Linked DNA regions of Homo sapiens. The protein of the gene in region 1 purifies or fractionates together with the protein of each later gene. This does not show direct contact. Each region holds a gene or a part of one and is shown in the gene's direction. Other genes may lie near its edges.

Region 1 (3,500 bases):
TTCAGGTAATAGGTTCACATGGTTCAAAATACACATAAAATAAAAAGTAAAAGTCTCCTTCTTACCATGTTCCTGGCCCTGATCATTATTTATGACTTCTTGTTTATCTTCTCATTATTTACATTTACAATGAAAATAGAATGCATTCTTTTTTCCTTTTTTTCTTTTTTGAGATAGGGTCTCACTGTCGCCCAGACTGGAATGCAGTGGCAATCACGGCTCACTGCAGCCTTGAACTCCTGGGCTAAAGCAATCCTTCCGCCTCAGCCTCCTGAGTAGCTGGGACTACAGGCATGCGCCACTACTCCCAACGAATTTTTAAATTTTTTATAGACATGGATTTTTGTTATTTTGCCAGGCTGGTCTCAAACTCCTGGACTCAAGCAGTTCTCCTGCCTTGGCCTCCCAAAGTGCTAGGATTACAGAGCCACCATGCTAGGCCTATTAGAATACATTCTTACTCACCTCTTCCTTTTAAACAAACCGTAGCATAGTATATGTACTGTCTATACCTTATTTCCTTTTTTCACTTATCTTGGCAATCTTTTCATATCAGTATGATGGAGAGCTTCCTCTTTTTTTTTTTTTTTTTTGAGACAGTTTCACTCGGTCATGCAGGCTGGAGTATAGTGGTGCGATGTGGGCTCACTGCAACCTACGCCTCCTGGACTCAAGCGATCCTCCCGTCGAGAGCTTCCTCCTTTTAAAAAATATTTCTGTTGAATGGAATAATATTTTATTTTAAACAATTTGAAAGATTTTAGGTTGCCAGAGTAGTTCCGTTCCTGTTTGGATTGCATTCCAGGTTGGCACACATCTCTCTTTCCAAGTTGTCCACTTTCCCTTCCTCTGCTTTCACTGCCCCAGCTCTTTCCAGGCTTCCTCATTTGGCTGCATGTGTAGTACCATGCCGAAAGCACTGGACTGCCAGACGGGAGACAGGAATTTTGGTCTTGGCTTGACTGATGCCTACTATTGTGTGCCTGCTTTTGATACCAGTTTCCTCTTTTGACTAGACAGTTTCTGGAGTTTGGCTTTAACATTCTTTGATTTGATTCTTAACTTGTGTGGTGGCAATGGCCACCTTTCACCCAATAGTGACTATAGGCTAGGTGTTGGAGTCTGAAGAGGAGGAGGCTTGGAGTAAGAGCTGGAAGCGCATTAGAAGTGGAACAGAAGTACAGTAGCCCTTATGTGAAGGGATGACAATATGGCACAAGAATCGGTGTGCCATCATCTTTAGCTGTCTAAAGCAATTTGGGCAACCTGAGACTGAATGTATAAGAGTCATATGAGAGAAGTTTTTATTTATTTGTCAAGATCCCTTGCAGTTTATCTGGAGTTAGCTTTTGAATTTGTGTATTTGACAAAGAGTTTGATTTTTTTTTTAGGGGATAGAGAAAAAGTTTTGTGACAGGACTTCCAATTTTGATGTCTTTCTGATATGTATATATGCATATTTGCATTTCAGACAATAGATGATTTGCTGCGGTGTGGAATTTGCTTCGAGTATTTCAACATTGCAATGATAATACCTCAGTGTTCACATAACTGTAAGTATGTTTTGTTCCTGTGAGTTAGTAAATTGCGATTTTTACATGAGGTAGTGTTAATTTAACACCAAAGATATGTGCACATATTTATGTTTCACCTTTAGCTCTTCTATCTTGTAGTTTTTCAGAAGGTCTTTTTCACTGCCTTCCTCTTGAATATTGAAGGTTTTTACAAGGCTTCTATATTTTCTACCTCGTTCCTCTTTGATATTTTTATGATTCTTATAGCATTTATGGCAGTAAAATTTTTGGTCACAATAAGTGGTTCTTTATTTGCCAAGTGTTTTTTGACGTTAAGTTTCAGAATTTTTGTTTTTAACAGGATAACAGATAGGTGGTTCCACCAAGTAGTACTTGATATAGAATTTCAAAGTTTAAAAATCTGTAACAATAAGAATATTGCCCCAGTGGGAGAATTCTACCACTGACTTTATTACAGACAGTTTTATACCTTAACTGCTATGTGACGCTGGAAAGACTCATGTTGGAATTTGTTTGTACTTCTCTTTAAGAGTCTAGTATATAAGCATTTAAAAATATCGTACCTTAAGATATTTAGTGCATAGGGGTTACCCTATCATTGTTGAGGAGCTAGACATACAGTTTATGGGTTATTCAGGTTCATGATCTTTCTTGTCCTCTATTTTCAAGTTGATTTATCTTGGAAAGTTAAAAACAGTCAACTTAGGCCTAAGAAATTGGTTTTAGTTGGTAGTAGCTTTGGTGGAAAAGTTTCTGTGGAGAAGACATAGTAAGAGGGTAGCAGTGACGGCAGCACGGGCATTGCAGATGCCCTTGGGCTTGACTCTTGAAAATCGGGTGAGAATTTACTACTTTAGAAAATGTTTGTGAGAATTAAATGTGCAGAACTCACTGTCCGGCACATTATGAGTCCTTAACAATGTTAGTTTTCTTCCAGACAAGATTCACATTAAAAACCAAGATAAGTTTTGGAGATTGTTTTAAAATATATTTTAACATCATCTTTATTTGGGTGTAATTTACATACAATAAAATACATCCATTTTAAGTGCACATTAAGGTATAAAAGTGTTCATGAATTTTGACAAATGTGTATGCTGTGTTACTACTGCAATTAAGATACTGAACATTTTCATTATCTGATAAATTTCTCCCCATCTCAGTCAGTATGACCTCAGCTAGCCATCTGTAGTCTATTTCTGGACTCTTCTATTCCATTGATCTTAGAAACTTAGTAGTTTTTCACCAAAACTACTGCCCACTAAAACCAATTGTTTAGGCCTAAGTTTACTGTTGCTTTAGCTTTCCAAGATAAATCAACTTGAAAATAGAGAACAGGAAAGAGCATGAACCTAAATAATCTGTAAACTGTTTGTCTAACTCCTGAACAATGATAGGATAACCCCTATTGCAGTAAATACCTCAAGGTACAATATTTTAAAATGCTTATATGCTAGACTCATATATGTCTATCCTTGTGCCAGTACCACACTATCTTGATTACTGTGGCTTTGTAGTAAGTCTTGAAGTCAGGCATTGTAAGTCCTCCAACTTTTTTTTCTTCGTTTTTTTTAGGATCGTTGCATTTTAAATGCATTTCCATGTATAACTTAAAATCAGGTTGTCAATTTCTACCAAAAGCCTGCTGGGATGTTCACTGGAATTGTATTGAATCTAGAGATCAATTTGGGAGAATTGACATCTTAACAATGCCGAGTCTTCAGTGTATGAATATGATACACTTCTCTATCTTTATTTCTCTCAACAGTGTTGTTTGATTTTCATTGCACAGACCTTGCACAAAGAAATATAACTTATATTGACCTTTCGTCTTCTGACTGCAGTAAATTCACTTTAATTCCAGCATCTTTTTTGTTGATTCCTTAGAAATTTTTGCATACACAATCATGTCATTTGTGGATAAAGACAGTTTTACTCATTCCTTTCTGATCTATATGCCTTTAT
Region 2 (3,500 bases), on another chromosome or scaffold:
TAACTTGATGCATATCCCTGGTTGAAACTTCTACACAGCAGTTATCACCCTGACCATGAAATGTTCCTTTTCCTTAGTGGAAGAGATTTGTGGGGTTTGGTTTGTAATTTAGAGAGGGAGAGTTTAACCAAGCCATGCATATTCTTTCATTCTGCCTTGAAATAACAGGTACATTTTTACTTACTGCACTCCTTCTCCAACTTACATATCCAGCTGTCTAAGTAGTATCCTCCAAATTCCAGTATTACCCAATGTGTAGAAAGCTTCAGGATTTAGGCACCTGGAAGAGGAAAGAAGAGAGCTTCCTATATTCTTCTGTTAAAATTAAAGCCCTTCTCATCAGTTGGAGAAGCCAAGCTCTCTTAAGTCTGTTTCTATCTCTAGGTTTTGTTAACTAGAAATAGAATCTTTTCCAATGCATTTATTTTAACCAATTTTCCCTTATTATAAATAGTGTTTTATTATAACAACATAATTTACTTCCTATTGTTTATTTCCATGTAGGATGTTATGACATTTTGGGCAGTCTATCCCCAGAATAGATTTTACCTCTTTTTATTGTATTCTACCTTTGGAAGGTTATTTTTAAGTGCAAAACACTTTATAAATATATGCTTAATTTTAATATATGCTTAAATTTAAAAATAATTGTAAATTCTCTAGACTGGGAACACTCTTTCAAAATAGTTTGTGCCGCAGTTTGCTGAGGGATTTTGCCAATATCAATACAACTATCCCTTCATCATTCTTGGCATGAGTTCTCTCATGGGCTTCCCATTCTAAGATCTCAGGGTATTTTAGTATATCTTACTTCGTTCTTCAGAACTTAGTAAATGGGAGTTCAAGATATATTGGGTGTTTAAGTGGAACCTTTCCCTGCTCAGTCGTCTTCACAGTGAATCTCCATTTTGTAATTTTCTTGTGTGATCATTGTGAGTGCTGTCAGCAGGTCCTGTATTACTTGGACAGAGTTGCCGACAGATTGATCTGGGCCTCGAAATACTTTCTTCTTTTGGACGGGGTGAAATTTAAAATGTGGATTATACCCAAGGGGAGGAAGAAGAAGGGAGTGGCGCGAGCTCAGGTAGCTTTCGTTGTGGCAGCACCTCCATTCCCCATGACTCCAAACCAGAAGTGTGGAACCACTTGTACTTTGGTCAGGAGTTTAAAAGCCAAAGGAAGACCTTATTTTCCAACCACATAAAATACATAATCATTGCTAAAGACTTATTCACAGCATACTGTTGATAAATCAATGGAGTAGACGGCTAGCTGGCTTCTGTCCTAATTAATAAGGCCTGCCTCCCTGTCTGTATATGAGGACTAATGGAAATGAGGCAGTTTATACTAGTAAATACCATGGTATATAAGGCTGCCCATCTCGTCACTGTCCAAAGAGCATGCCATGCCCCTAAATACATACAAAAGACAAATTCATGGAGAAGGGATACATACCAAAATACTAACGTCAAGGTAGTCTAGCAGAAGGTGAATTTTCTCCCTTTGTCTATTTTTAAAATTTAATGTAAATTTTTTTAAAGTAAATGTTGACAGGTCTGAGTAGCTTGTTTTTCAAACAATTATTTAATGGTTAAGGATGTAAAACTATGTAAAATATGGTCCCAGTTTTTGTTTTAGGTTAGCTGTAAGGTTGATGGTTGCATGGGTGAGTGGATCGTAAAGTCAGCACTTGGCACAGTAGCTTTCATTCTGCTGGAAATATCAAGTACATTTTTATCTCTCAGTGCTGGAAATATGGATTCTTTTTGTTTTCTCTATACTTTCCATATAATTTATAAGAAGTAAAGGTTTCACTCTGAGATTATGATAAAACTGAAGTTAGTCCATTCATTTTGCAAATATTGGATGCCTATCATCTACCAGGTCTGGGAATACAAAGAATAAAATATTCCTCTCCTTGAGGTGCTCCGCATAGTAGGGATGATGAATGTAATGTAATCAACACACAATCCAACCCATGGTGCAGGATATAGGCTAGTTCAGTCCGTTAGGATCCAATGGGGCTCCTGCTTTGACTCCTTTTTCTTCCCTCAATTGTCCTGAAGGCTTTTTGTTGCTAGGCAGCTTTCCAAGGAGAGAGAATCCATTGTTTTTACTAGTTCTGAGGCAGAAATGAGATGCCCAAGCAGTTTCTGTTCTCCCTACCTGTCTTCCCACACAGGTTGAGTGCAGTAAGGGGCTGAGAGTGCACCCTTCCCTCTCAGGCATGTCACGTACTGCTACACCCCTGTGATGCTGGTCCTTCCCCATACATTTTCTTTAGTATATGTTCTGTCCATCATTATCTTCTAAATCATCTTCCAGAAGACTTGCTAACTAATTTCTGGTTGAGCAGTGATCCCCAGGCTTTATAGAGTGCCAGTGACATGGCCTCGGTGTTTGTTTTTTTGTTGTTCTGGTGAGGTCTGCTGAGAGAATGCTACCATCAGGAGAGAGGAAGATGGGTCTCCAGGCTGCACCACTGGCTCTGGGGCCCAGGCAGTTGGCATGAGTGAGGAGAGAGTCATTTGTTGTAAAGCTGGGGCTGGCCAGTTGTCTTAGGTGTGGTGAGAGACCCACAAGGAATAACTGGAAATCAACTTTGGTAAATATGGGGGTGAGATGAGGCATCTTTAAGGCATTGGGAACAAATCCTTCCGTGAATGAAATGCAGATTGGTGTTATTTGGGTTACTCAGTGAGCAGAGTAGTGTCAGTGAGTGGGTGTATGCTGAGGAGTTCTGCATTGATCCAGCAGGCAAGCTGGGTCCCCTTCGGAAACTGCCACCCCTCCCCGGCCCAGCCCCGTTGGTGCCTGTACATTGTTTTCCAGGTAGCTGATTCGGACAGTCCTAATGGGCTTATTATTTACTGTAGATGTTCTCAGCTGAATGTTGATGACATGGGTGAACTGTAACTGAAAAATTTTATTTTTTTGCTTCACAAATGTGCAGCTAGCAGCTCAGCCAGGAATAAGACCCCACTAAGTTATGAAATGTGTTAGATGTCTTGTTTAACTCAACTAGGGATAGAAAATTTTACTGAGTCAGCCTTCTGATCATAGTTAGATCTTATTTATGAGGGTCCAAATTTAGAAATGTGACTGTAAGTTTTAGTCCTGATGTTCAGAGAGAGGTTAGGTGGCTTACCCAGGGTCTCATGGCTATGTACCAGCAGTCTTCTCGTCGCTTCCCAGGCTAATGACCTCTCTGCTACCCTGTGCGGATTTTGCATGATTAGTGTCCACTATGAGATGACCTACTGCAGCATCCCAAGATTCCCCAGGCCAAGAGAATCCTGAGACCTGCTTCTAGGACCTGCTGTGCTCAGAGTAACTAGGGACCCAATTTGTTGTTTTTAAAATGAAGGAATTGAACTGCATGATCTGGAGCCCTTCAGAGCTAATATTCAGATATAATGCTGACTCTCCCCTGTGTGGAAAGTGGTCTAAGCACATCTGTCTCATCGGATGTAGGCTGCATTTGGAACATGTTTTCCATA
Region 3 (3,500 bases), on another chromosome or scaffold:
CCACCACCACACCCAGCTAATTTTTGTGTTTTTAATAGAGATGGGGTTTCACCATGTTGGCCAGGCTAGTCTCGAACTCCTGACCTCTGGTGATCTGCCTGCCTCAGCCCCCCAAAATGTTGGGATTAAAGGCATGAGCCACCGTGCCTGGACTATTTTATTTATTTATTTATTTATTTATTTATTTATTTATTTATTATGTTTTGAGATGGAGTCTCTGTCACCAAGGCAGGAGTGCAGTGGCGCGATCTCGGCTCACTGCAACCTCCGTCTCCTGGGTTTAAGCGATTCTCCTGCCTCAGCCTCCCAAGCAGCTGGGGTTACAGGTGCATGCCATCATGCCCGGCTAATTTTTTTATTTTTAGTACAGACAGGTTTTCACCATATTGGCCAGGCTGGTCTTGAACTCCTGACCTCGTGATCCATCTGCCCGGGCCTCCCAAAATAGTGGGATTACAGGCGTGAGCCACCATGCCCGGCCTCTTTTTTTTATTATTATTATTATTATTATTATTATTATTATTATTATTATTATTATTTTGAGACTTTCTCACTCTGTCGCACAGGCTGAAGTGCAGTGTGGTGTGACCACGGCTCACTGTAGCCTTGACCTCCTGGGCTCAGGTGATCCTCCCACCTCAGCCTCCTGAGTAGCTGGGACCGTAGGCACATGACACCATGCCCAGCTAATTTTTGTATTCTTTGTAAAAGGACAGGGTTTTGCTATTTTGCCCAGGCTGGTCTTGAACTCCTGGGCTCAAGCAGTCCTCCTGCCTCAGCCTCCCAAAGTGCCAGGATTACAGGTATGAGCCACTGTGCCCAGCCCACAATCATCCCCTTAAAAAAGACAGAGTAAGATCTTCAACAGTTTGAAATTTTATATTTTTCTTTTTCTCCTTGAATTCCTTTTCTTGTTTACTCCTCCATGGAATTTTTAATGTAATTTTATGCTTGAAAGCCTACTCTTGGAAACCATATATTTCTCTGCAATAAAAATACAAGTATAAATTTAAAATTTTCATAACATGTGACCAAGTGTTAAAACATTTTCTTTCAAAATTATTTTAAAGGTAATGTTAATATAGTTATTCAAAGCCATATATATATATATATAAAGTAAATTTATATATATATATAAAGTAAATTTGAAAATAAGCCTTGGCTGGGTATGTTGGCTCACACCTGTAATCCCAGCACTTTGGGAGGCCAAGGCGGGCAGATTGCTTGAGTCCAGGAGTTTGAGACCTGCCTGGGGAACATGGTGAAACCCCATCTCTACTAAAAATAGAAAAATTCGCTGGATATGGTGGTGAACCCCTGTAGTCACAGCTACATGGGAGGCTGAGGTGGGAGGATTACTTGAGCCGGGGACATGGAAGTTGCAGTGAGCTGAGATTGTGCCACTGCACTTCAGCCTGGGCAACAGAACAAGACCCTGTCTCAAAAAAAAAAAAAAAAAAAAAAGGAAAAGGAAAGAAACCTTAAAAATAAAGTGTTATCGTAAATAAGTCCTATAATGAAATGGATAGGATTGCTTTCCCCACCTTGATTAGTTTGTGGATCTATGAATGCATATTGCACATTGATGGAATGAGAGAACTGCTATTGAGCTGGGTTTAATTTTTTTTTTTTTTTTTTTTTCTGAGACGGAGTCTTGCTCTGTCGCCCAAGCTGGAGTGCAATGGCATGATCTCAGCTCACTGCAACCTCCACCTTCCAGGTTCAAGCGATTCTCTGCCTCAGCCTCCTGAGTAGCTGGGATTACAGGCATGCTCCACCATGCCCAACTAATTTTTGTATTCTTAGTAGAGACGAGGTTTCTCCATGTTGGTCAGGATGGTCTCGAACTGTTGACCTTGTGATCCGCCAGCCTCAGCCTCCCAAAGTATTGGGATTACAGGTGTGAGCCACTGCACCTGGCCCAAAAACATTTTTTCAGTAGATAGATTAACATATTGTTAAATAGTTTTGGTGATTTCATTTTTCTCTGCAAATGGCTTTTACTTGGAAGTTGTAAATTATTAATCTTCTCTCTTATGCACATATGCAACATAATCCTATCCATGACATGTCTCATTACATGCACTGATTCCCAGAACAGGGGCCAGTTGGAGGCTTTTGAGCTTTTTTTTCGAGACAGAGTTTCGCTCTTGTCACCCAAGCTGGAGTGCAATGGTGCAATCCCAGCTCACTTCAGCCTCCACCTCCTGAATTCAAGTGATTCTCCTGCCTCAGCCTCCCGAGTAGCTGGAATTACAAGCGCCTGCCACCATGCCAGCTAATTTTTGTATTTTTAGTAAGATGAAGTTTCACCATGTTGGCCAGACTCATCTCGAATTCCTGACCTCAAGTGATCCACCCACCTCGGCCTCCCAAAGTGCTGGGATTACAGGCGTGAGCCACCACGCCTGGCTGGTTTTTGAGCTCTTGATCCAGATATGCATGCCTACCTTGGTTGAGAAAAATCACTGCTCTAGAAGACACTATAGGGTTTCCTTAGAAGGTTTGATCATAGGTAATATGAAGATTGTGTCTCCATATTACCTTAGACAAGTTTTTACCAGAAATTAGTTTAGTTTATAGATCTGTCTTATGAGTCCATATTCTAATGAAATATTTTCCATTTTTCTGTAGGATCTTAAATCTTTAAGAAGTCAGACATCAAGAGGTTCTGCCAAGCTGTCTCCTCAGTCCTTCAGTGTCAGGCTCACAGATCAGCTGTCTGCTGACCAAAAACAGAAGAGCATCAGCTCATTGACTCTTTCAAGTTGTTTAATTCCACAGTATAATCAAGAGGCTTCAGTTCTACAGAAAAAGGGGCATAAAAGAAAGCATTTCCTAATGGAGAATATAAATAATGAAAATAAAGGAAGCATTAATCTTAAAAGAAAACATATTACATATAATAATTTGTCAGAGAAAACAAGTAAACAAATGGCATTGGAAGAAGATACTGATGACGCCGAAGGCTACCTAAATTCTGGGAACTCAGGAGCATTGAAAAAACATTTTTGTGATATTAGGCATTTGGATGATTGGGCAAAAAGCCAGCTGATTGAAATGCTCAAACAGGCAGCAGCCCTGGTGATAACTGTGATGTATACTGATGGTTCCACCCAGCTAGGAGCTGACCAGGTTAGTAAACAGTGATGTTTTTATTTGCTGTCTTGACACCATAAAAGAAGCCCATTTTCTTAGTGTCAGATTTTGATAGGAGAGCTAGAAACAAGATTTTAAGGCTTTCCTTCCCCTCCAGTGGTAAGTGATTGACAATGTATGCTCCCATCAGTTTCTTAGGAAACTGTAAAACTGTTTTCCAGAGTGGGTGTACCATTTTACCTTCCACCAGCAGTGTACTAGGGTTTCAAATTCTCCACCTCCTTGTCAACACATGTTGTTGTCTGTTTTTTTAGCCATTCCAGTGATTCCGAAGTGGTATTTCATAGTGGTTTTAAATTGTATTTCCCTATTATCTAGTGACATTGAGCATCTTTTCATGT
Region 4 (3,500 bases), on another chromosome or scaffold:
TCAAGGATATCTACATGACATTAGTTTGTACTTTTAGCATTTATTGATTGAAAAAAATATAAAATAACAAATCTGTTAATTCAGTACATTTTATCTTTTTTTAAAACTAGAAAATAGAAGATTAAAAAGGCAAACACTGCAGAAGTTTGCAACAAGAAATGAAAGGTCTCCACAACTAACAACAGTTAATAGTCTAGTGTATCCGATTTTTTTCCTGATGTGACTATACATTTTGAAAAACAAATTCCCACATTCAGTAAGATACATTGGACACGATAATAATAGCTGGCTTTCATTGAGTACTTACTGTGTGCTATGCCATTTTATGTGCTTCTAATTCGTTTGAACCTCATAACTTTATATGATAGTGGTTTACTTTTAGAGATGGAAAAGCCAAAGTACAGAGAGTCAGTTCTAATTCCTCCTTCAGGTTTCATCTACTTCATTTTATTTATATTTTAGAGGTGCATTGCATTTTGACCAAGAACTCTCAACTGGTAAAATCAATCTTCAGCCAAGGCTGAAACCATATTTTACCATTATAGAAGGAACTTCTAGGATACAGGAATAAATCTAAAGTTTTGTGTGTTTTTTGTTTATTTAATTTTTATAATGTTGCTGATTTTATGACCAAATTTTAGTGAATTTTGACATTATTGTAGAAGAACAGGAATTTCTCAGCCAGGAGATTGCTTCTGCACTCACTGTATTGCACATTTTTAATACTAAATACATGATCACCTTGCACCAAAGTTAATGGAAGAACAAAATATTATTTTATATAAGGGGCTGCTGCTGGTGGTGTGGCTACCACATTATTCCTTTTCTTTTTTCTCTGACTTAAGATTTGAAAAAATCTTTTCATTTCCTGGATTTGCAAATTTCATTCATGGTGGCTAAAGTAGTTTCATTTATATAATCCCACCTAGCAAAGTTTTTGAGTACTGCTTGGAAAAGATGCTTTCTACATATTTTCAGAGGCTGACTTATGATGGTTGCCGTCACTTATATTTTTATTACCAATATTTTTGCATGTGTTTCATAATCACTAATAATTATAGCATTATACTCTTAATAAATATACATTTATACTTCAATTGACTAACATCAACAGAATTTCAACATGTAAAGGACAAGGGGATATTTCAATCTAGATAGCATGAAGAATGCTTATTGTGTCTGATAGCAAAATTATTAAAAATCTAAGCCAGGCGCAGTGGTTCATGCCTGTAATCCCAGCACTTTGGGAGGCCAAGGCAGATGGATCACCTGAGGTCAGGAGTTCGAGACCAGCCTGGCCAACATGGTGAGACCTCGTCTCTACTAAAATTACAAAAATTAGCTGGGCATGGTGCCCAAGCCTGTAATCCCAGCTACTCAGGAGGCCAAGGCAGGAAAATTGCTTGAACCTGGAAGGTGGAGGTTGCAGTGAGCTGAGATGGTGCCACTGCACTCCAGCCTGGGTGTCAGAGCAGGACTCAATCTCGAAAAAAATAAATAAATAAAAATAAAAATCCAAATGATATGTCTTGTTCATCTTGTTAATACACTTAATCAATTGTCATGGTAATGTACATAATCACGCAATCATTAATCACATACAAGTTCAGGGATTTCAGAAGTAATGTTAGACTAGGCATTTAGCCCTTTGGTCTTCTAGAGCCCTGTCTTTTGGCTGAATTGTGAGGGGAAATTTAATCCATTGCTAGTACATTTCGTAACTGATTAATAACCAATCACCTATTAATGGCCTTTGGATTTTTCCTTTTTCTTGAGATGGAGTCTCACTGTCTCCTAGGCTGGAGTGCAGTGGTGAGATTGTAGCTCACTTGCAGCACTGAACTCCTGGGCTGAAGCAATCCTCCTGCCTCAGCCTCCCAAAGTGCTGGGATTACGGGCGTGAGCCACCATGCCCAGCCTCCTTTTTTTCTTTTTACAAACTCAATCTCTCTCTTATATGAATATTTTATGTATTAGTATATTTGAAATATTTGAAAAACTGTAAAACAAATATTCTCTACAGGCTGACAAAGGATACAAAAAGAATTATGAACATTTTGCAATTAATCACCTGACCTGAAGAGCTTGCTAAAGGGGATCCTACCTGCAGTACCAATTCACTTTTCTCTAATTCTAGATGATGAAACCCCTTAATAAGCTGACTTATCCTAAACATCTTCCACAAACAGTGTTTGTCTCCTCCTGGATCAACCCTGAATAATGCCTGAGCAAAGCAGGAATTTCTCCTCATTTCTAGCTATATTTAAATTATCTGACTTCTCTAGAAAAATGGAACAAAACTCAAACTGGCAGCTCTGTAGCTCATTTTTTGTAATCCCATACTTAAAAGTAAGATAATGAGCCAAATCTTCTCTTTTGTTTAGTCATTTAATTTCTCATCCTGTTACCCCTGTCCTTTTTGTAAGACATTTAACCCCAGAAAACTGAATAGGATGGAATGATTTCCTCAGGTAATGGGAGATATCTGTAAAAGAGCAGAGATAAGGGCATTTGTTAATTAGTTAATTTAATTTTTATAAATTGAATTTTTCAGATTATATATTGATCAAGCTATCCAAATAATAATTGCCTCTCAAGTTTGGTTTTGGCGGGTTTATTTTATTTTATTTACTCATTTTGATTCAAGGTCTTACTCTGGTGCCCAGGCTGGAGTGCAATGGCACAATTACAGCTCACTGTAGCCTCACGGGGCTCAAGCAGTCCTCCCACCTGAGCCTCCAAGTAGGTGGGACTACAGGCACATGCCACTGCACCCGGCTAATTTTTGTATTTTTTGTAGAGACTATTTCACCATGTTGCCTAGGCTGGTCTCAAACTCCTGAGCCCAAGTGATCCTCCCAAAGTGCTGGGATTACAGGCATGAGCCACTAGACATGGCCAAAAGATAAGAAATTTTCTAACTAGAGAAGGGATTGACGGGGTTGTACTTTTCGCAGAGGCAGGGTTTCACCTGAGCTCACGAACTCCCACCTTGGCCTCCCAAAGTTGTGGTATTACAGGCATGAGCCACTGTGCCCAGCCATTTTAGGTTTTTAAAGCAACTCTTGGGGAATGGAGACATCTGTCCATGTGCAGAAAATTTGATTTAGGGAAATCTGGTTTGGGGAATACTGATTGCACAAATAGTGAATTTTTTGTGTTTTTTTTTGTTGTTGTTTTGTTTTTTTGAGTTGAAGTCTTGCTTTGGTACCTAGGCTGGTCTTGAACTCCTGGGCTCAAGTTATCTTCCCACCTCAGCCTCCTGAGTAGCTGGGACTATATAGGCACACACCACTGCACCAGGTTAAAGTGAATTTTTTTTTTTTTTTTTGAAACGGAGTCTTGCTCTGTTGCCCAGACTGGCGTGCAGTGGTGCCGTCTTGGCTCAGTGCAACCACCACCTCCCAGGTTCAAGCGATTCTCCTGTCTTGGCCTCCCAAGTAGCTGGGAGTACAGGCACGCACCACCATGCCTGGCTAATTTTTGTATTTTCAGTAGAG
Region 5 (3,500 bases), on another chromosome or scaffold:
GCAACATTCTGTTCCCCTTCATCCCACAAGTTACTGGAAACCATATTATCTTATGGCTCAGTAATGCAAAGATGCCTCACTCCATCTAAATAGCCTTTAGAGGTTTTAATATAATGATCTATTGGGAATGTAACGATAAGTTAATTTTTAATACATAGCTGATATCTTTTTTGTATTTCTTTTGATCAGAAAGTAGAGATAGGAGTTGCTAAAATTTTGGGGACTGCTGGTAACATTCCAAGAAAGTGTGTGAAGCTAAATCACCTACTGACAATTACTATTTAATCTCCCTTTCTTCATAGCACATTGTTCTTAATGAGGCTGTTTTGACATCCTACTAGATGCGAGATAAGCAGGCCAGACCTTAAAGGGTGCGGGCTCTGAAATGTTTTTTTGTGTGTGTTTTTTTTGTTGTTGTTTTTTTTCTGTTTGTTTGTTTTTTTTTTATTTGAGACGGAGTCTCGCTCTTGTTGCCCAGGCTGGAGTGCAATGGGGCGATCTCAGCTCACTGCAACCTCTGCCCCCGGGTTCAAGCGATTCTCCTAACTCAGCCTCCCAATTAGCTGGGATTACAGGCATGCGCCACCACACCTGGCTAATTTTGTATTTTTGGAGAGATGGGGTTTCTCCATGTTGATCAAGCTGGTTTTGAACTCCCGACCTCAGGTGATCCACCCACCTCAACCTCCCAAGGTGCTGGGATTACAGGCATGAGCCACCGTGCCCGGCCCTGAAATCTTTTAAGTCTCTTTGGCTACTAGGCCCCAGGTTGGTCACAGGACAGCAAAAAACAGGACTGCATTTCATCAACAGCAGACTTGAGGAGCATCATCAGGAACCAGTAACAATGAAAATAGAAGTCAGAGATCATAGAATAACATTATTTTAAACCATGGGACCAAATAGGGTAATTTGCTGCCTGTGTGACTTTTCTGATTTTTAAAGTATGGGCATGACTCTTTTTGAAAGATTATTATGAGTAAATTTTAGAAAACTGACTGTTTTATTTATCGTTTGTCAGTACGAGGATGTCGTCCAGGAAAGATTGTGCAGATGACTGAAGCAGAAGTTCGAGGCTTATGTATCAAGTCTCGGGAGATCTTTCTCAGCCAGCCTATTCTTTTGGAATTGGAAGCACCGCTGAAAATTTGTGGTATGTAAATGGGTAAAGTTGGAAACAACTCTTTTGAATCATGTTTTTCCTCCCATGTTTAAGATCTAGAGAAAACATTTTTTGAAATTTTTGTATAAAACAGATCAGTAGGCTTTACTAAATAAAAGTGTATAAAAATTGAAACTTATAAAAATGACAAGTTACAGACAAGATGAAAATACTTGCTATATATCAACAGATAAAAGGAGTTCTATTTATAATATATAAAGAGTTCTTATAAATAAGAGAAAGGCGATACAGTATAAAAATAACATAGGAAGAGGAAGGTCTTAGAAGAAATTCAAATGGCCAGTAAACATAAGGACGTCAGCTTCTTTTTTTAGTAATCAGTGATGTGCAATTTAAAGCAAGTCTCCAACTCTAGTCAGATTATAAAAAAATACCAAAGATTGATGTTTAGTGTTGTCAAGGATGTCACGAAAAGGGCATCATAGTACACTGGTTAGAAAAAAATAGGTGTATAATTTAGAGGGTCAATATGGCGATATCTGTGGTCTTCTAACTTTGATGTTATTTAAATTTGTTTTGAAGATTATACTACTTTATACCTTGTATTCTTTTAAGTTTTACAGTGACTTTTTTACAGTCCTTTGTACAGTGCCCAGCAAATAAGAGATACTCGCTAAGTAAATGTTTGTTTTTTGTTTGTTTGGTTGGTTTTTCTTTGAGACAGAGTTTCACTCTTGTTGCCCAGGCTGGAGTACAATGGCACAATCTTGGCTCACTGCAACCTCCACCTCCCGGGCTCAAGTGGTTCTCCTGCCTCAGACTCCTGAGTAGCTGGGATTACAGGTGTGAGCCACCACGTCTAGCTGACTTTTTGTATTTTTAGTAGAGACAGGGTTTCTCCATGTTGGCCAGGCTGGTTCTGAATTCCTGACCTCAGGTGATCCACCTGTCTTGGCCTCCCAAAATGCTGGGATTATAGGCATGAGCCACCGCAGCTGGCCAATAAATGTTTGTTGAATGGATCAGTTAACTTAGAATATCACACCTTCAAGTAAGAGGTAGTAGTTCAGAATTTGGGGGAACTAATCAATCCCCTGTATAAACTTAAGCAAATGTAGTTACTTAGAGGTGATCTTAAAATTATTAGAATTAAAGTATTCTTTGAAGGTGTTCTTTAAAATGTAATATAGAAATAACTTGAAGGTAATGGAAGTTATTTGTACTACATATTTCTAAAGGTTTACTATTTGTCTCCATATTTGGTGTTAAAAAGTGACGTAAGTTAAACTACCAGATAATAAAATTGTTTTAGTTACCTATTGTTGTATAATAAATCATTCCAAAACTTTGTGGCTTACAGCAACATTAATTTACCATCTCACAATTTCTGTGGGTCAGGAATTCAGGAACAGCTTAGTGGGTCCTCTGGCTCTGGGTCTCTCACAAGGCTCCAATTAAGGCGTGATCTCGGGCTGCAGTCATCTGAAGGTTGAACTGTGAAAGGATTCAGTTCCTTATAGACTGATGGACTAAGAGCCTCAGTTCCAAATGAGCTGTTGGTCAGAGGCCTCCCTCAGTTCTTTGCTACGTGGGATGCTTCATTAGACAGCTGGTTTCATCAGCGAGCATGGAAGAAGGTGAGAGAGTGCAAGCAAGATGAAAGTCACAGTCTTTTGTAACTTAATCTTGGAAGTGACAGCCCATCTCACTTTCGCTTATTAGAAGTAAGTCACCAAATATAGCCCATACTCAAGGGTAGGGGAGGATTACACAGGATGTGAACATTGGGAATCATTTCATAGAAGCTGCTTATAACAGTAACCAATTTTTCTAAAACTGACTCTTTCTCTTTTTAGGAGATATTCATGGACAATATACAGATTTACTGAGATTATTTGAATATGGAGGTTTCCCACCAGAAGCCAACTATCTTTTCTTAGGAGATTATGTGGACAGAGGAAAGCAGTCTTTGGAAACCATTTGTTTGCTATTGGCTTATAAAATCAAATATCCAGAGAACTTCTTTCTCTTAAGAGGAAACCATGAGTGTGCTAGCATCAATCGCATTTATGGATTCTATGATGAATGTAAGTGAAAATAAAGACTTAGAAAAGTAATTCATGGAAACATTGCCTAATAATTTTCTGGTTCAGAAGAGTTGCTTTGATTCAGAGTTTTTTCAAAATAAGATCTGTCAGGCATAGGCCAGGAAGAGGAACCTGAAACTGGGAAACATGTTACTAATTAAATTGGTTCCTTGAGATCTCCTTGGTCATATTTCAGATTGACTGCAGCTTACTTGGCTGAAGAGGCTCTTTTAAAATTAGTTTATCTAGTAAACTATCCAGGTGAAACAGAAGTCACTGTAGGCAGTGGC
Region 6 (3,500 bases), on another chromosome or scaffold:
AGACCACTGGTGACAAAACGGTAGAGGCGCCTTTGGTAACAGAAGAGAAGACTGTGGAGCCAGCTACCGTCTCAGAAGAAGCAAAGCCTGCATCTGAACCTGCTCCTGCCCCTGTGGAACAGCTGGAACAAGTAGACCTGCCCCCAGGAGCAGACCCCGATAAAGAAGCTGCCATGATGCCTGCGGGTGTTGAGGAAGGTTCATCAGGTGACCAGCCGCCTTATCTGGATGCCAAGCCTCCAACTCCCGGGGCCTCGTTTTCCCAGGCAGAGAGCAACGTAGATCCAGAGCCTGACAGTACCCAGCCACTTTCAAAACCAGCTCAGAAGTCTGAGGAAGCCAATGAGCCAAAGGCCGAAAAGCCAGACGCCACTGCAGATGCTGAGCCTGATGCAAACCAGAAAGCCGAAGCTGCTCCTGAGTCTCAGCCCCCAGCTTCTGAAGATTTAGAGGTTGATCCTCCAGTTGCTGCAAAGGATAAAAAGCCAAACAAAAGCAAGCGTTCAAAGACCCCTGTTCAGGCAGCTGCAGTGAGTATCGTGGAGAAGCCCGTCACAAGGAAGAGTGAGAGGATAGACCGGGAAAAACTCAAGCGGTCCAATTCTCCTCGGGGAGAAGCACAGAAGCTTTTGGAATTGAAGATGGAGGCAGAGAAGATTACAAGGACTGCTTCTAAAAACTCTGCTGCAGACCTTGAACATCCCGAACCAAGTTTGCCTCTCAGCCGAACAAGGCGCCGGAATGTAAGGAGCGTCTATGCAACCATGGGTGACCATGAAAACCGCTCTCCTGTCAAAGAGCCCGTTGAGCAACCAAGAGTGACCAGAAAGAGATTGGAGCGAGAGCTTCAGGAGGCTGCAGCGGTTCCCACCACCCCTCGGAGGGGAAGGCCTCCAAAGACACGCCGGCGAGCCGATGAAGAGGAGGAGAACGAGGCCAAGGAACCTGCAGAAACACTCAAGCCACCTGAGGGATGGCGGTCGCCAAGGTCCCAGAAAACTGCAGCTGGTGGTGGACCCCAAGGGAAAAAGGGAAAAAATGAACCGAAGGTGGATGCTACACGTCCTGAGGCCACCACTGAGGTGGGCCCCCAAATAGGCGTGAAAGAGAGCTCCATGGAACCCAAGGCTGCTGAGGAGGAGGCAGGGAGTGAACAGAAACGTGACAGAAAAGATGCTGGCACAGACAAAAACCCCCCTGAAACCGCCCCTGTTGAAGTTGTAGAGAAAAAACCGGCCCCTGAAAAAAACTCCAAATCAAAGAGAGGAAGATCTCGAAACTCCAGGTTAGCAGTGGACAAATCTGCAAGTCTGAAAAATGTGGATGCTGCTGTCAGTCCCAGGGGGGCTGCAGCACAGGCAGGGGAGAGGGAATCTGGGGTGGTGGCAGTCTCCCCTGAGAAAAGTGAGAGTCCCCAAAAGGAGGATGGTTTATCATCCCAGTTGAAAAGTGATCCAGTTGATCCAGACAAGGAACCAGAGAAAGAAGACGTGTCTGCCTCTGGGCCGTCCCCAGAAGCCACCCAGTTAGCCAAGCAGATGGAGCTGGAGCAGGCCGTGGAACACATCGCAAAGCTCGCTGAGGCCTCTGCCTCTGCTGCCTATAAGGCAGATGCACCAGAGGGCCTTGCCCCAGAGGACAGGGACAAGCCTGCACACCAAGCAAGTGAAACAGAGCTGGCTGCGGCCATCGGCTCCATCATCAATGACATTTCTGGGGAGCCAGAAAACTTCCCAGCACCTCCACCTTATCCTGGAGAATCCCAGACAGATCTGCAACCCCCCGCAGGTGCACAGGCGCTGCAGCCTTCTGAGGAAGGAATGGAGACAGATGAGGCTGTATCTGGCATCCTGGAAACTGAGGCTGCTACAGAATCTTCTAGGCCTCCAGTCAATGCTCCTGACCCCTCAGCCGGCCCAACAGATACCAAGGAAGCCAGAGGAAATAGCAGTGAAACCTCACACTCAGTGCCAGAAGCCAAAGGGTCTAAAGAAGTGGAAGTCACTCTTGTTCGGAAAGACAAAGGGCGCCAGAAAACAACCCGATCACGCCGCAAGCGAAACACAAACAAGAAAGTGGTGGCTCCTGTAGAGAGCCATGTCCCTGAATCCAACCAAGCTCAAGGTGAGAGTCCTGCTGCAAATGAGGGGACAACAGTACAGCACCCCGAAGCCCCACAGGAAGAAAAGCAGAGTGAGAAACCCCATTCCACTCCTCCTCAGTCATGTACTTCTGACCTAAGCAAGATTCCCTCCACAGAGAATTCGTCCCAAGAAATCAGTGTTGAGGAAAGGACTCCAACCAAAGCATCTGTGCCCCCAGACCTTCCCCCACCTCCCCAGCCAGCACCGGTGGATGAGGAGCCTCAAGCCAGGTTCAGGGTGCATTCCATCATTGAAAGTGACCCGGTGACCCCACCCAGCGATCCAAGCATCCCCATACCCACACTGCCTTCTGTAACTGCAGCAAAGCTCTCACCTCCTGTCGCCTCTGGGGGGATCCCACACCAGAGCCCCCCTACTAAGGTGACAGAGTGGATCACAAGGCAGGAGGAGCCACGGGCTCAGTCTACTCCATCTCCAGCTCTTCCCCCAGACACAAAGGCCTCTGATGTTGACACCAGCTCCAGCACCCTGAGGAAGATTCTCATGGACCCCAAGTATGTGTCTGCCACAAGTGTCACTTCCACAAGTGTCACCACAGCCATTGCAGAGCCTGTCAGTGCTGCCCCTTGCCTACATGAGGCCCCGCCCCCGCCAGTTGACTCTAAAAAGCCTTTAGAAGAAAAAACAGCACCTCCAGTGACAAACAACTCTGAGATACAAGCCTCGGAGGTGCTGGTAGCTGCTGACAAGGAAAAGGTGGCTCCAGTCATTGCTCCCAAAATTACCTCTGTTATTAGCCGGATGCCTGTCAGCATTGACCTGGAAAATTCACAGAAGATAACCTTGGCAAAACCAGCTCCTCAAACCCTCACTGGTCTGGTGAGCGCACTCACTGGCCTGGTGAACGTCTCCCTGGTCCCGGTGAATGCCCTGAAAGGCCCCGTGAAGGGCTCAGTGACCACACTGAAAAGTTTGGTGAGCACCCCTGCTGGGCCCGTGAACGTCCTGAAAGGGCCTGTGAATGTTCTTACGGGGCCAGTGAATGTTCTCACCACTCCAGTGAACGCCACGGTGGGCACAGTGAATGCCGCCCCAGGCACAGTCAATGCCGCTGCGAGTGCAGTGAATGCCACAGCAAGTGCAGTGACCGTCACAGCGGGTGCGGTTACTGCTGCATCTGGTGGTGTAACGGCCACAACAGGCACGGTGACAATGGCAGGGGCAGTGATTGCGCCGTCAACAAAGTGCAAACAGAGAGCGAGTGCTAATGAAAACAGTCGGTTCCACCCAGGGTCCATGCCTGTGATCGACGATCGTCCGGCAGACGCGGGCTCAGGGGCGGGGCTGCGTGTGAACACTTCTGAAGGGGTTGTGCTCCTGAGTTACTCAGGGCAG
Region 7 (3,500 bases), on another chromosome or scaffold:
ATGGATATTTTTATTTTTATTAACTTTTTTCAGTTTCTTTTTATTCAAAGAAACAAAATTCAATCTCTGATAATATTTGAGGTAAAGTTCCTTTCCCTATCTTGACTCACTGAGTTATTAGGAAACAGAAGGCAAAAAGATTGTCAAAATAAAAACAATAATTCAAGTAACAATGCCCGGAATATACGTCCTAACTACACCCCTTCCTATCAGCTGGATTCTATCCAAGTGACTCTATTGATGTATGTATGTTCATTCAAAGAATGGGAAAAGGATATGACATATATTTGCCAGTACTTCATCTTCAAGATTTACCCTTTTCCTGTGAAGTTCAGAGTTACTGAAGATGCTTCTTCCCTTGGGAAGTTGTTGACCCAAGAACATAGGTTATATTTCCCAAATCTTTAATTATTGAGTGAAAGAGCTATAGATGAATTGATATGGAAAGACCGTATCTTCATTTTCGTGAGTAGAAGGAAAGATAAGAATGAGGCAGCAGATTTTCCCTCCTGGAATTACACATAAAGGACACTAAGCAATTTTCAAGGTAAATGTTGCCTTGTTGTTGGTCTTTGGCATGATAAGATTCTTTATTTAAATATGAGAGAATTTTTTTTTATCCTTTATATTCTCTCAATATCAGAACTCCTGAATTCTGAAGATTGCCCTCCTCCCATTAATAGGATTGTATGGATGTAAGATGGAATAAAATACTAGTTCTTCATTTTGAGAAAACTGTACATTAGTTTAATGTTTGTTACTGTATTTCTTTTGAGTTGAGGCACTTACATAACAATCTTCTTTGCTTTTTTGGCAGATAAACCCAACAGAGGTGAGGCCCAGCTAGTAATCCCTTTTAGTGGGAAAGGATATGTTCTAGGAGAAACAAGCAATTTACCTTCACCTGGGAAACTGATCACTTCACATGCCATTAATAAAACCCAAGATCTTTTAAATCAAAACCATTCAGCAAATGCTGTAAGACCTAATTCTAAAATCAAGGTGAAATTTGAACAGAATGGTTCAAGTAAAAATTCTCATCTGGTCTCCCCTGCTGTTAGTAACAGTCACCAAAATGTTCTAAGCAACTACTTTCCTAGAGTATCATTTGCCAACCAAAAGGCTTTCAGAGGTGTGAATGGATCTCCAAGGATAAGTGTAACAGTTGGCAACATCCCTAAAAACTCAGTCTCTTCTAGTTCTCAGAGAAGGGTTTCATCTTCTAAGATATCCCTAAGAAATTCTTCAAAAGTAACGGAATCAGCATCTGTGATGCCATCCCAGGATGTGAGTGGGTCTGAAGATACATTCCCAAATAAACGACCTAGGCTAGAAGATAAGACTGTTTTTGACAATTTTTTTATCAAGAAAGAGCAAATAAAAAGCAGTGGTAATGATCCAAAGTATAGTACAACCACAGCTCAGAATTCCAGCAGTTCATCCAGTCAGAGCAAAATGGTTAATTGCCCAGTTTGTCAGAATGAAGTTCTGGAGTCTCAGATTAATGAGCACTTGGACTGGTGCCTTGAAGGTGACAGCATCAAAGTCAAAAGCGAAGAAAGTCTTTGAAAAAGGTTTCAAAGTCTCAAGTACCACCTGTATTATCTCACTAATGTGCTATGTCAGCCAGTCAGGAAGTTCTGGTTAATACTAAGATTTGTAGGTTATAATCTAGTTCACATAACCAATAGAAAGTGTCCTATTTTATATATACGCATATAAGATTGTAATTTTAAGATGTTTTGTGTCTCAGGGTGCTACATTCACTCTTGCCTTAGGTATACTGTAACCCAGGTTCTGCCTGTCGTGTATAAGTTTTAGATACTTTTGTTCTTTCTTGCTCTTAAGGATTTTAAAAACCTGTTAATCTTTTTATTTGTATACTTTCCTAAAAATATTCATATGGGGAATCCTGTCAGGTGTTTGGTTATATTGACTATTTATTAATAGTATTAGAACTCATTCCCTGAACTGATGTAAATCTTCATAGTGTCAGACATACTGACCAAAACCACAATCTAGACTACAAAGTATATTGTTTTAGAGTACTCAAATTGTATTATTTATTAATTTTTTTGTTTGCAAAATCTTAACAGGAACTGTATTTTCTATATTTTAAAGAATTTTATTTGTCCCACTTTTACTAAACAGTGGCAGCAGATTTTAAGTTAAAGAATATGGAATATAGTAAAATAAGTAAATTTCTTTTGGAATATTTTTAGTAACAAATAGCCACTATAATTCTGTAGGCCAAATTTTATATTGAGTTTAGCTGTTTTCTCAAAATTTAGCAGAGTGGTTAAAATTCTGTGCTGATAAGTAACTGATACATATAACATAAACATAACAAAGTTGCCTAGTTGATGTAACAGTGGAAAGTTATCTGGAAATAGTATTTTGAACTTTAAGCCAAGTTTAAAACATTATAATAAAAGGAATACCATTTGTGCATTTTAAGTAATCTTTTTTAAAAAAAATATTTTCCATGTTATAGGGAAAGGACAAAGAGACTTTTATCAGTTTGCTTTTTGTCTTGTGGCTGTACATGCTGTTGGCATAGCCCTAACACAGTTGTTCACAAGTTTTCTTTTTTCTTGTTGCAATTTTCCTTCACTTTGTTGTAATACAGGTGCACAAATCTTAAGTGCACAGCTGGGTAAACTTTTACAGTGTTCACCTGTGTAACTACCACCCGGATCAAGTTAGAGAACACTTCCATTGCCACAGAAGGCTTCCTATAGGTGTCTGTTCCCAGTTGATACCCATGACCCTCACCACCTCCAGAGGTCCCCACTGTTTTCACCCCATCGTCGCAGATTATTTTTTAATTTTATAATGTAGTATCTTTGTTCCTATGTATAGCAGGAGTTCATTTTCATTGCTCTTGCATTTGTATGAATATACTAGAATTTATTCATCCATTCTAATGTTAATGGACATTTGAATTATTTCCAGTTTGGGGCTGTTAAGCATAATGCTGCTAAGAACATTCTTATCTTTTCTGTTGGGTATATATACAGGAATGGAATTGCTGAGTCACGGGGTATATTTCTGTTTAGCTTTAGTAAATTCTGCCAGTTTACACTCCTACCAGCAATGTATGAGAGTTTTAGTTGTTCACCATTCATAACACTGTTAGCAGCCCTTTTCGTTTTAGACTGGTTGGCTGTTCACAAATTTTGATATTCCTTAAAGCATTAAAACATTTTAATAAATACTTATAAATAGGTATTAAAATGTATATTATGTTCAATATATAGTTATATTTTCATAGAGGATCATTTCTCTAAATGAATGTAACAAATTATGTGTAATTAAATGCTTCCTGAGCCAAAACCACACAAGGTTCTGGGGCTGTGAAGTAGCTGAGATGGTCCATGTCCTCAAGGAGCTTTACAGCATAGTTGGGGAGTAAGACAAATGCACATTAATCTCCTTAGAGTTTGCTAAGTGCTATGACAAGGGTTTTTGCTGGGTGCTGTGGGTAAACTGTAGGAAGA

Evidence for each region.
Region 2: the proteins of RAD18 (region 1) and WRNIP1 purify together in Homo sapiens (affinity purification with western blotting; 2 studies listed by BioGRID). This does not show direct contact.
Region 3: the proteins of RAD18 (region 1) and POLN purify together in Homo sapiens (affinity purification with western blotting; 2 studies listed by BioGRID). This does not show direct contact.
Region 4: the proteins of RAD18 (region 1) and SLF2 purify together in Homo sapiens (affinity purification with mass spectrometry; 3 studies listed by BioGRID and IntAct, with this or other methods). This does not show direct contact.
Region 5: the proteins of RAD18 (region 1) and PPP1CB purify together in Homo sapiens (affinity purification with mass spectrometry, with the first as the bait; 2 studies listed by BioGRID). This does not show direct contact.
Region 6: the proteins of RAD18 (region 1) and SPEN purify together in Homo sapiens (affinity purification with mass spectrometry, with the first as the bait; one large-scale study listed by BioGRID). This does not show direct contact.
Region 7: the proteins of RAD18 (region 1) and SPRTN purify together in Homo sapiens (affinity purification with western blotting; 2 studies listed by BioGRID, with this or other methods). This does not show direct contact.

What each region holds. Positions count from the first base shown.
Region 1 is NC_000003.12:8,956,973-8,960,472, reverse strand, and holds part of RAD18 (E3 ubiquitin-protein ligase RAD18), read left to right. Parts: intron 1-1,471; coding exon 1,472-1,553; intron 1,554-3,500. UniProt on the Homo sapiens protein: E3 ubiquitin-protein ligase involved in postreplication repair of UV-damaged DNA. Postreplication repair functions in gap-filling of a daughter strand on replication of damaged DNA.
Region 2 is NC_000006.12:2,775,393-2,778,892, forward strand, and holds part of WRNIP1 (ATPase WRNIP1), read left to right. Parts: intron 1-3,500. UniProt on the Homo sapiens protein: Functions as a modulator of initiation or reinitiation events during DNA polymerase delta-mediated DNA synthesis. In the presence of ATP, stimulation of DNA polymerase delta-mediated DNA synthesis is decreased.
Region 3 is NC_000004.12:2,207,622-2,211,121, reverse strand, and holds part of POLN (DNA polymerase nu), read left to right. Parts: intron 1-2,634; coding exon 2,635-3,135; intron 3,136-3,500. UniProt on the Homo sapiens protein: DNA polymerase with very low fidelity that catalyzes considerable misincorporation by inserting dTTP opposite a G template, and dGTP opposite a T template. Is the least accurate of the DNA polymerase A family (i.e. POLG, POLN and POLQ).
Region 4 is NC_000010.11:100,919,463-100,922,962, forward strand, and holds part of SLF2 (SMC5-SMC6 complex localization factor protein 2), read left to right. Parts: intron 1-3,500. UniProt on the Homo sapiens protein: Plays a role in the DNA damage response (DDR) pathway by regulating postreplication repair of UV-damaged DNA and genomic stability maintenance.
Region 5 is NC_000002.12:28,775,830-28,779,329, forward strand, and holds part of PPP1CB (serine/threonine-protein phosphatase PP1-beta catalytic subunit), read left to right. Parts: intron 1-1,021; coding exon 1,022-1,153; intron 1,154-2,979; coding exon 2,980-3,210; intron 3,211-3,500. UniProt on the Homo sapiens protein: Protein phosphatase that associates with over 200 regulatory proteins to form highly specific holoenzymes which dephosphorylate hundreds of biological targets.
Region 6 is NC_000001.11:15,931,207-15,934,706, forward strand, and holds part of SPEN (msx2-interacting protein), read left to right. Parts: coding exon 1-3,500. UniProt on the Homo sapiens protein: May serve as a nuclear matrix platform that organizes and integrates transcriptional responses. In osteoblasts, supports transcription activation: synergizes with RUNX2 to enhance FGFR2-mediated activation of the osteocalcin FGF-responsive element (OCFRE).
Region 7 is NC_000001.11:231,351,793-231,355,292, forward strand, and holds the end of SPRTN (DNA-dependent metalloprotease SPRTN), read left to right. Parts: exon of another isoform or gene 1-817; coding exon 818-1,569; 3' UTR 1,570-3,231; downstream 3,232-3,500. UniProt on the Homo sapiens protein: DNA-dependent metalloendopeptidase that mediates the proteolytic cleavage of covalent DNA-protein cross-links (DPCs) during DNA synthesis, thereby playing a key role in maintaining genomic integrity.